Regions from separate parts of the Homo sapiens genome. Here region 2 is linked to region 1. The links come from fine-mapping of genetic effects on gene expression. Tissue or cell type: skeletal muscle. Region 1 holds a variant in brackets; the other region holds the start of a gene. All regions are shown on one strand. Distances are from middle to middle.

Region 1 (5,386 bases):
TGGCTAGGATCTATGAATGCACTGGGCTTCCTTCTGCTTTTAGGCCAGCTAGATCAGACACGCACACCCACCTTCACTCGGGGCTATGCCTAAGGTCCCTATATCCTTTGGATACTGTAGAATGCTATTGCAGAGCTGACCTTCATAACTGGGGTGCTCACCCTTCTCCATGCTTACTACAGTTACTATTTTGAGCATCTTCTAGGAGCAGAGCCCTGTAATAACACAGGCATGGACCATGCAATTGAGCCGAGTGCTTTATATGCATTATCTCCTTTAGTCCTCATTATAATCCTGTAAAGTAGGTACTATTAACATATTCAGGCCAGGTGCGGTGGCTCACGCCTGTAATCCCAGCACTTTGGGAGGCCGAGGCGGGCGGATCACGAGGTCAGGAGATCGAGACCATCCTGGCTAACATGGTGAAACCCCCGTCTCTACTAAAAATACAAAAAATTAGCTGGGCGTGGTGGCGGGTGCCTGTAGTCCCAGCTACTCGGGAGGCTGAGGCAGGAGAATGGCGTGAACCTGGAAGGTGGAGCTTGCAGTGAGCAGAGATCAAGCCACTGCACTCCAACCTGGGCGAGAGCAAGACTTCGTCTCAAAAAAACAAAAACAAAAACAAAAACAAAAAAACCAACAACAACAACAACAAAAAAAACATATTCATATTCAATACCTATTCATTTCAAAATGAGGAAACTGAGACTTAGGAAGATTAAGGACCTTTCTCCAAGTCACCCATCTAGTAAGAGGTAAGACCAGGCCTAGGATCCCAGGCCAGGGCTCATAGCTGTTACACCATATTGTTTTTCATCCCACCTTCTCCTTCCTCCTTTTCTGACTGATGGGCTCCATGCAGCAGGTACTTTTTTTTTTGTAATTGTAGCATTTCTCATAATGTACTGTCATCAATCTATTTGTCTATGTCTCTCATTAAACAGGGAGGTTCCTGAAGGCAGGGGCCATGTCTTATTTATTCCTGTAGACCAGTGCTTACCACAACATGTGGCACAAAGTACTCCAGAGGATGTTTATTTACTGAATTATATTGGCTTTTTCTTCTCTACCTGCTGTCTTTTGCTGAAGTCTTAGCATGTCCTCTACCCACACTCATTTGAGCTATGACAGCTCTCAAATCAACGTTAGCAGTTACTCTTGGGTCTGAAATTATGTGTGGGTGTTGACATATTTATGTATGTATATGTATGTGTATGTCTGTGTGCGTTTGTGTGTCTGCTGTGGTATCAACTAAAACAGCTAGTTTTCCCAGTGCTTGTCTACATCAAAAGCTTTTAGCCATCAGGTTTCTTCAGTTTCCTTTAATCTGGAAACTTCCCACAGCCTTTCTTTGTCAGTATGACATAGATATTTTTGAAAAATATAGTCCATTAAAAAATAAAATGCTTCCCATGTTGCGTTTGTCTGATGTTTCCTTCTGATTAGATTCAGGCTCTGCATTAAAATGCTCTTTCTTTTCTCATATCTGGAGGCACACAATGTCCATTTGCCCATCTGAAGTTGATTTGGATCACCTAATCAAGATGTTGTCCTATTTCTTCCCTGTATACTTAACGTTCTTTTTCCTCTTGTAACTAATAAGCAAATTCTGAAGAGATATTTTAAGATTATGCATATATCCTGTTATTCTTCAAAATTCCCTCCTGGATCCATCGATGATTCCTGCCTATACCTGTCTTTAATATGATGATTGTGAAATTACAATTCTGCAAATAAATGTGGTATCTGACCCTAGACTAGATCCTGCACAGGAGGGGAAAATGCCATAAAAGACATCGACTATGCATTAGATGTCCTACCTAAAGTAATGTAAGTTTTTCATTTAATAGCTGACATTTAATTGATTAAAAAGTACAGGCCTGGCCGGGCGCAGTGGCTCATGCCTGTAATCTCAGCACTTTGGGAGGCCGAGGCGGAAAGATCACGAGGTCAGGAGATCGAGACCATCCTGGCTAACATGGTGAAACCCTGTCTCTACTAAAAATACAAAAAATTAGCCAGGCGCGGTGGCGGGCGCCTGTAGTCCCAGCTACTCAGGAGGCTGAGGCAGGAGAATGGTGTGAACCTGGGAGGCGGGGTTTGCAGTGAGCCGAGATCGCTCCACTGAACTCCAGCCTGGGCGATAGAGCGAGACTCCGTCTCAAAAAAAAAAAAAAAAAAGTACAGGCCTTCCCTGGATTGAATAGCCCCCAAGGTCTAGTCTCATGTGAGATCCTATGACCCTATGTGAAACTTCTGTTACTATAATGGAGACTGTATGGAAACTGAAACTAAATAATAGCGGTATTTTGAAATGAAGACTCTAATTCTGGTTGCACATGTTTGTTTTCTTTATTGAAAGACAATACAGAAATGATGAAACAATACCTCAAGGGTCTTGAACATGGATCAAATGACA[A/GAA]GTCTTTAATGCAATGGCACAGAAGCTTCTGGCATCAGCACCTGCAAGCCCTGTTCAGTCATCATTCATGATCGCCAAATACTCCTTCTGGTGTTCAACCAGCTTCAGGAATACTTGGTATTTCTTATCATAGTATCTGTGGGAGAAATATAAATATGTTGAATGATCTCAAGACAAAACTGCCACAGGGCTTCCCTGTACATTTAGAAGAATGGAAATATATGTGTGGTGGTGATGCTGACACCTAGATTCTGAATGCTTACAGCATCCTGGGCAATGAATTAGCATGTTTCAGACCTATTATATGTGACCTGGATGAAGTTTTATTATCTCCAATTTAGAAATAAGAACATTTAAACCCCATCTCTTAAAAATACAAAAATTAGCCAGACATGGTGGTGGACGCCTGTAATCCCAGCTACTCAGGAGGCTGAGGCAGGAGAATTGCTTGAACCCGGGGGGCGGAGGTTGCAGTGAACCGTCCCCCGTTCACTGTGAAGTGGTTGAGTTGCACCACTTCGCTCCAGCCTGGGTGAAAGAGCCAGACTCCATCAAAAAAAAAAAAAAAAAAATTCCTAAATGAGAGGCATATACAAAGTAGTATAGATAAAAACTGGCAGAGCTGGAATTCAAACTCATGTCTGTCTGACTTCAAAGCTTCTACTGTATATACAAAAAGGCCGGACTTAATGGAGACTCTTTCACATTGCCAGCTTCAATAAGTATTTCCTATATAACTAGCCCCAGGTTTGATGACTGGCCTAAAATCACAGCCTGACCAAGGACAAAGACTGAACATTTTAATTGCCCTTTTGCAGATTCCACATCTAGGTTTCCCTTGTGACCTGCTTTATCCAGGAGCAAAACCCCATGGAAATGTAGCTAATGCCTTTTCTAGAGCTGTGCTCGCCTTCCAGACATCTCACAGTGGCCGTTGCTCTCCCTGTCCTATCTGGCTGACTCTTTGGGTTAGACCTGTTAGAACTGGTATTGGCCATGAATCAGACAGCAGAACAGCTGAAGCTGCTCTGGCATCATAATCCTGAAAGGAATAATAGGAACCGAGACAAATTATACTTGCAGCCTTGCAACTTTGTCCTTACTCCTCTTGGTTGGGAAGCTGACATGGGGTGAGGGGGTGAAGAAGCCAGTTTAGCATGTCTTGCTCAATTCTGGGGTGCTCTGAAAAGGAGTCCTCATGATGAAATTTTGGTGCAAAGTTGTGCATTGGCAGAGAGAGGTTGTAAGAGTAACCTTGGATACACACAGGGACTTCTACTTGTCACACATAGCTATGTTAGTAGGAGTCCCCTACCCAATATTTATTAGACTGTAAGCATTCTGGTAACGTAGGAGTTGTGACGGGGCCAAGCACAGGGTTAAAAGGCGAACTCCAAAGCCTGGGTTGGAATCTTAATGTGGCCTAACATTAGCTGTGTGACTTTGGATATGTTACTTAAACTATTTCTGCCTAAATTTCTCCATCTGTAAATGGGGATAATTATGGGATCTACTTCAGCAGAGCTGTTGTAGATTAAATGTGGAAATAAATGAAAAGCATTTAGAACAGTACCTGACTCATAATAAGTGATATAAATGCTAGTTACTAAATTTTAGATAATTAATATTTTAATATCATCAATATAGCTATATGTAGGTACTACTAAGACCTACTCTATGAGCATCCAAATTTATTAGTTGTAGAATTATTTTAGGAACAATTTGCTCCTACTAATGATGCTCTGTGACAATATAACGGTAAGGAATTCTTTCACTACATGAGATAGATTTCTTGACTTTAGAATCTCAAAATATCTAGAAGGGAGCTAAGGTGAGCACCCCTTCACACACACTTGATTTACAATGTTAATACTGACAACTTTGCCACAACTTTGTGCACTGGCCTTATTCTTTACATAGGTGGAATCATGCAGTATTTGTCTTTTTGTGGTTATCTTATTTCACTTAGAATAATATCCTCAAGGTTCACTGATGTGTGGCATGTCAGAAATTGCTTCTTTCTAAGGCTGAATAATACTCCATTGTATGCACATATCATTCTTCATTTATATGTTCATCTACTAATGAACACTTAGGTTGCTCTCATGATTTTCGCTATCATGAATAATGTTGCTGTGAACATGAATGTAGAAATATCTCTTCCATACCCTACTTTCAGTTCTTTTGGGTATATACTCAGAAATACAATTCCTGAATCACATGTTAATTCTATTCTTAATTTCTTGAAGAATGGCCATAGTGTTTTCTGCAGCAGCGATACTATGTTACATTCTCACCAACTATGCACAGAGCTTCCAATTTCTCCACATCCTTGCCAACATTTGTTGTTTTCTGTTTTAAAATAGTAGCATCCTAATGTGTGAGGTGGTACCTCACGGTAGTTTTGATTTTCCTAATAGTGCTGTTGAATACCCTATCACGTGCTTACTGGTCATTTATAAATCTTCTTTGGGGAAATATTCATTCAAGTCCTTTGCCCACTTTTGAATTGGGTTGTTTTTGCTTTTTTGTTGTTGTTGAGTTTTAGGAGTTCTTTATACATTTATATATTCTGGATATCAATCCCTTACTGGATGTATGATAAGCAAATGTTTTCTCCCATTCTGTGAGTTGCCTTTTTACTCTGTTGATAGTGTCTTTCAATGCACCAAATTTCTCAAAGCACATTTAAGTGACTCTTCCAGAGCCACATATAAATTTGGACTGAACATAATAATGCAATTTGGGGTCATCCTAAACATTTATTATTAAACTATAGTCACTAAATTACACTCTCCGTGACTGTGAATTTTAAAATCAGCTGAATCCCCTCTCTTCAAAATGTGCCTCAACTCAGTCCCTGCTTCTGTGTGGCAGAGGCCTAAGTAAATGTCGTCCCACATCGTTAACAGTGTGATCTATTAGGCAATGAGATGAGGTTGGCTCAGAAGGAAACTGGCTTCTCCT
Region 2 (5,386 bases), 52 kb before region 1:
ATACAGTATGACTTTAACACGGAATAGTGGCTCTTTGTTCTCTGTTAAAAAAGGGGAATACTTCAGCAAGTTTATACATACAGAGAAAGGAGCCAATGGAGAGAAAGTAGTTGTAAATACAGAAAGGGAACAAATGATACAATAACGTTTTAAAAGAGGTGGAAGGGATGGAGTCTAAAGCCAGAGCCAAGGATAAGGAGGTGGTCATTTGCCCCAGAGGAATAAGAGTTGGGGGCTCAGGTAGAATACTGATAAAGGTTTGCTAAGAGGAATGTGAGAGAAACTGTCTGGTTATTCTTAAGTATGGGCAATGTTAGGAGAAAAGGTGCGTTTGACAGTAACAGCATTAGTAGAGGCAACAGTTTGCACGGTCATTCAATTTTCTCCACAGTGCTCAGCAGCCCAAGAGAGGACTGAAGAAAACGACCAATTTTACTCTGTTATCTGTGATTCCTTATCATTTGGTTTACAACATATTTGCAGCTTTTACGGAATTTTACCTTCCACTGTAATTACACACAGCTCTGGCTACCACTCCAGTCCTCCCCAGTGCCTAGCTCAACATTGGAAGTCAATAAATTCTGGTTAAAAGAGTGGATACAGTCACATAATATTTTAAAATATTACAACACAAAAGAAAATCCTGTGCTTCTCCACCACCTCACATGTAAATCAATGACATCATAAAGACTAAGCTTAACACTTCAGTCAATTGAGGTTTACAATAATGTAGCAGATTCGGATACACCCTTTAATTAGTCTGTTTTAACAAAACAAATCATTAAAAGTAATGTTGCCTTGTTTCTACGACAGTCTTAAATACAGCACTTCCACCCCAATACCTATTTCAAATGAAAATTCAGCTGAACAGTTAGCTAATTGCTTTTAACTCACAAACCCTAAATATTTGCATTCCACTAAAAGCAAAAGTTATTTACTTACAAAGTGTAAATGCTTTAAATTATGGCTATTTCCAATAGGCTTCACACATTTCCATAAACCTAGATTTCTCATTCTTTGGAATTAGATGCATTAGATCACTAGGGAATCTCAACCGATTACAGCCTCCTGATCCCGTCTGTTTACATTCCATCTGCACACACTCCCCTAGACGCAACTAAACAACTGGTTTGGGATGAGCATCATCAACAGCACCTTGTGGCTCATCAAACACCATCTTTACTCAATATGGGTTAAGAACCACACCTGAATGCCAGCACTGATATCTAAGTAACTCTAAGAGGTGGGATGTCATTTTGCTGACTGGAATATTGAACAATCTGGGGACAGATATGCCTGTCCAGACCCAACACAAATTAACAAAAATCCTAAACACAGATAAATCCTAAAGAAAAATGTCAACTCATTTTCTTTAAAGAAAATGCTGTCCATTTAGAGGAGGAGAGGGCCAGCGAGAAAAAGGGAAAACGACCCCCGACTCCCAACACATCTTTTTCTCCATACGGGAAATACAAACATCTCTTTGAAGCGGCTTCTACAAAATCGGATGTTCTAGAGTCCTGAAGGAGCATTGGTCCGGGAACTAAAACAGCCAGCCACCTCCTGGCCACCTGTGTCCAGGTAGAGCAAGGTAGTTTGAGGATGCAGGGTTAGGTTTCGGAAAGGGTCTTCACGCCCAAGCGGACCAAGGCAAGAGAGTCGGCGATCCAGAAAGTGGAGGGCTCGGGCGCTGTTCAGGGGGAGAAAATGGGGCAGCGGGGAGAAAAGAGGATGGGTGCTTGGTTCATATCCCAGCTGTTAGGGCACCAGGCAGGTCGAATCCTCTGGTTGAGACCAGAGCCTCCACTGTTACGCTCCCAGAGCTTCCTTTACCCCCACCCCCGGACACCAACCCGCGCCCACACACCTGCCCGTCGACCCGCAGGTGGCATTCTCTCGGTCAAGGGCACGAGGTGAGAAGGGCAGGGTGCGCCGGGACCCTGTGCAGGTAGCCCCAGCTCACCTGGGAGAACCGGGCGCCCCAGGCTCCTCGCCTCGGCCCCCTGGCCCCCTCGCCCTCTCGCCTCCTCGCACTCACCCAGATCATGAGGCTGTCGCACAGGGGCAGCTTAGGCTGCGGCGGCGGCTGCGTCTCCTCCATGGCCGGCGCCGCCGTCGACGACGCCGCGGACACCTTCACACTCCCTCCTACCGGCTCTCCTCCAGGAGCCGGCGTCCACGACCTGCTAGCCCCCAGGAAAGCTCGGTACCAGGCCCGACCCGCGCAGCTCACGCGCGAACCCTCGCGCTGTCGACGCGTCCGGCGTCACCCCCTCCTCACCCGCCCCCGCCTCGCTCCAGCGTTCGCCCCCTCCCCTTCCTGGGCCCCGGCCGCGCTGCCAGGCACCTGAGCCCCGCCTTCTCCCACCCCTCCCCTCCTCCCACCCGTCCTGCCCACTCCCGCACACCTCGCCCCGCCGCCCTGAGTGACCTGGCCGCGCACCAGTCACAGAGACGGTAGGTACCCGGGGGGGCGGGCGGGGCGGGGCGGGGGCGGGAAGAACCGGGATAGGTTGCGCAGGGGGGATTGCTGATTGGACGTGCCCTCGTGGGCTCTGGCCAATCAACGTGAGACAAGCCTGAGCCTTGGGTAGAGAGTGAGAGTGGGTGGGAAGAGGTTTATGACCTGGCAGGTGCAGTGAGGGCGGGGGTGGGAGGTTGCGCGCGGGAAGCGAGCGCGCGTGCGCGGCGGGGATTGGTAAGGCTGAAGCTCAGCCCCAGTGGCCGAAGAGGCAGAGGGGCAGCAGGGCACCGGCTGGGCTCAGGCGTCTTCCCTCCTTCTTCGCGGTAGCACGCCGCCTCGCTACACCTGTGGAGGGCCCACACTCTGCTTCCACATTGTCTTCAGAAATAGATCCTACCGGCTGGGCGAGGTGGCTCACGCCTGTAATCCTAGCACTTTGGGAGGCTGAGGCGGGTGGATCACCTGAGGTCAGGAGTTCGAGACCCGCCAGGCCAAGATGGCGAAACCCATTCTCTACTAAAAATACAAAGATTAGCCGGGGGTGGTGGCACATGACTGTAATCCCAGCTACTCAGGAGGCTGAGGCAGAAGAATCGCTTGAACCCGGGAGGCACAGGTTGCAGTGAGCCGAGATCATGCCACTGCACCCCAGCCTGGACAAAAAACCGAGACTCTGTCTCTAAAAAATATATAAAACAAAATAAAGAAAGAAAGAAATAGATCATACCCATGAATTAAAACTCTTCGAGGAAGGAAGAGCTGATTTCCTCCTAGGCACTCATTGGAAAGGGATGTTTTCATTTGCACACGTGGCAAATATGCCACATTAATAAGGAAAATAGAATCCGTCAGTGCTCCTTAAATAAGCTCTCACGGGACCATAGATCATGAGCAATTTTATTTTACATGGGGCAAAAGGGAAGACCGTTTTCAAGTAGCAAAATAAACGAAATGTTTTGAAAAACATGGAAGATATTAATGTATCCATTTTCCTTTGTCAGTTGAAAATTTGCTTTTTCCGAGAATGTTGTGGGGTGGAGGGGGGTCGGGGGAGGTGACCTGAAATTGGAAGCTCTCCAAGGTATTGATAGATGGCTTAGGTGATTGAAAAGGGCTAGACTATTCTTAGTCTTGCTGTCACTTCACTCATTCATAAACTCATCAATTCATGCTCTGAGTAAGAAAACAGCTGGCTTTTTTTTATATTGCTGCGTTTTTATATTTAGACACTGAAAATTTAAAACTGATGGACGACTGCAATTAAAAGCCCCCAAGTGTAAATCAGTCTCATTCTAAAAATACAGTATGTACGTTTGCTATTGACTCCCTTAACATTATTCCAGAACTTTCTTAACGCCTCTGGAGTCACTTTATATGCTGGAACTAGGTACATTGGTAATGTGATTTAATTAAAACTACAAGATTTAGGAATTGAAGACCTGGTCTGAATCTTGACTTTATTCCCCACTGGCTGCTCTCCTATAGCCCCCAACCTCCACATTCCTAAGATCATTGTAATTAAAATGTAAACATACATGGTAAATGTAAATTATAAACTTTGTAAATATGAGTTACTATTATCATCTATACATATGGGAAACTTCTCAACATATTTATCACTGAGAGCCACAAGTGACCAAATTTCTCAAATAAAATAATTCGTGAGAGTAACTTGGTGGGGGGGGCAATTAAGTTATGCTTCTGGACTTTATAGAGAGTAAATTATCAGGGAAGGAAAAATTTAACAATTTTTATCAAGAAACTTTAAAATATCCATATCATTTAAACCCATGATTCCAATTTATTCTGCGTCAGTCATAAATTCTGTTGAAATCATCAGAAGTGCATTTGGAGGCTTTGAACAATGATATGTATGGCAATGCTATGTATTGATCAATTGTATAATCGATTGATACAATGCCCAATAAGCAAGGAAGGCTAAATATTTTACAGCAGATTCAGTGCTCTGGAGAATATTTGATAACTCAGGAAAGTTGTCACAATGTATACTATTAAATAAAATTTAGATGAAAGTATCAGCCATATGACCTCAATATTATAAATATTAGGTATGTATTTTAATATATACACAGGAAGAAGACAAAGGAATAATCATAAAACTGTTGTTATATTTATATACAAATGAAAAATGACTATTTTTCTAATCTTCCATATTTTCTAGGCTTTCTACAATTAGCTTATATTACTTTATAATCAGAAAAAAAGACTTTAGAAGAAATGCCAAATACAACATAAGTTATCATTTCCAACTATTAAATTGGCATCAGTTCTTTAGAAGTTGGCATCCATGTTTGGGGAGTTGAGTGAAACTAACTCTTAAACCCTAGCTGTGGGATTATAAATGGGTACAAAGTTTTTTGACAATATATATCAAGAGCCTTTAAAATGTTCAAAGTCTTTAAGCCAGTAAGTTCACTTTCAGAATCTATTCTAAGAAAATAATCATATGCCAACAAAGTTGTTGATTGCAGTACTATTTATCAAGCAAAAAGGAAAAGAAACAGCTATTAAATGTCTGAAAGAGAAGTGATTAAACACAGTAAGTTATATTTAAACAATGAAATGTATCATAGGCATTAAAATATTTTAAAATAAGTTTATTCAGGAAAATGCTTATCACATAATGTTAAGAAAAAAAGCCATTATGCAATCTGTGCATACAGCATAGATCCCAACATATACATAAATATATGGGCCAGGTGCAATGGCTCAAGCCTGTAATGCCGGCACTTTGGGAGGCTGAGGTGGTGGGAGGATCACTTGAGTCCAGGAGTTTGAGATCAGCCTGGGCAACATAGAGAGAACCCGTCATTACCTTGAATAAATAAATAAATAAATGTATGTATGTAAATATATATTTATGTGTGGATCCCTATTTGGGTGTGCCTGGGTGTGTGTATA

Alleles and levels. Positions count from the first base shown, and alleles are read on the strand shown. Sizes are in standard deviations (SD) of each study's normalised expression.
For the expression in skeletal muscle of the gene that starts at base 2,270 in region 2, GAA is the high allele of the variant in region 1 and A is the other (small effect, 0.34 SD a copy in GTEx).

What was found. PIP is the estimated chance that this variant, and not a neighbour inherited with it, causes the effect.
Region 2: HOOK1 starts here. The variant in region 1 is fine-mapped to the expression of HOOK1 in skeletal muscle (GTEx, PIP 0.99). The same link has a PIP of 0.9 or more in tibial nerve.

The regions. Positions count from the first base shown.
Region 1 is chr1:59,759,672-59,765,057 of GRCh38, reverse strand. It overlaps FGGY (FGGY carbohydrate kinase domain containing), which reads right to left. Exons shown (of 16, transcript NM_018291.5): 16 at 2,328-2,555. The coding sequence ends at 2,474. Among named protein-coding and RNA genes, the nearest start is that of MIR4711, 29 kb to the right of the region's middle. RefSeq lists an enhancer at 2,256-2,305. The variant A/GAA (reference allele first, on the strand shown) is at 2,420.
Region 2 is chr1:59,811,833-59,817,218 of GRCh38, reverse strand. It overlaps HOOK1 (hook microtubule tethering protein 1), which reads right to left and starts at 2,270. Exons shown (of 22, transcript NM_015888.6): 1 at 2,039-2,270. The coding sequence starts at 2,101. It overlaps LOC105378758 (a long non-coding RNA gene), which reads left to right and starts at 2,353. Exons shown (of 5, transcript XR_947426.3): 1 at 2,353-2,457. RefSeq lists an enhancer at 1,403-1,966 and a silencer at 2,203-2,802.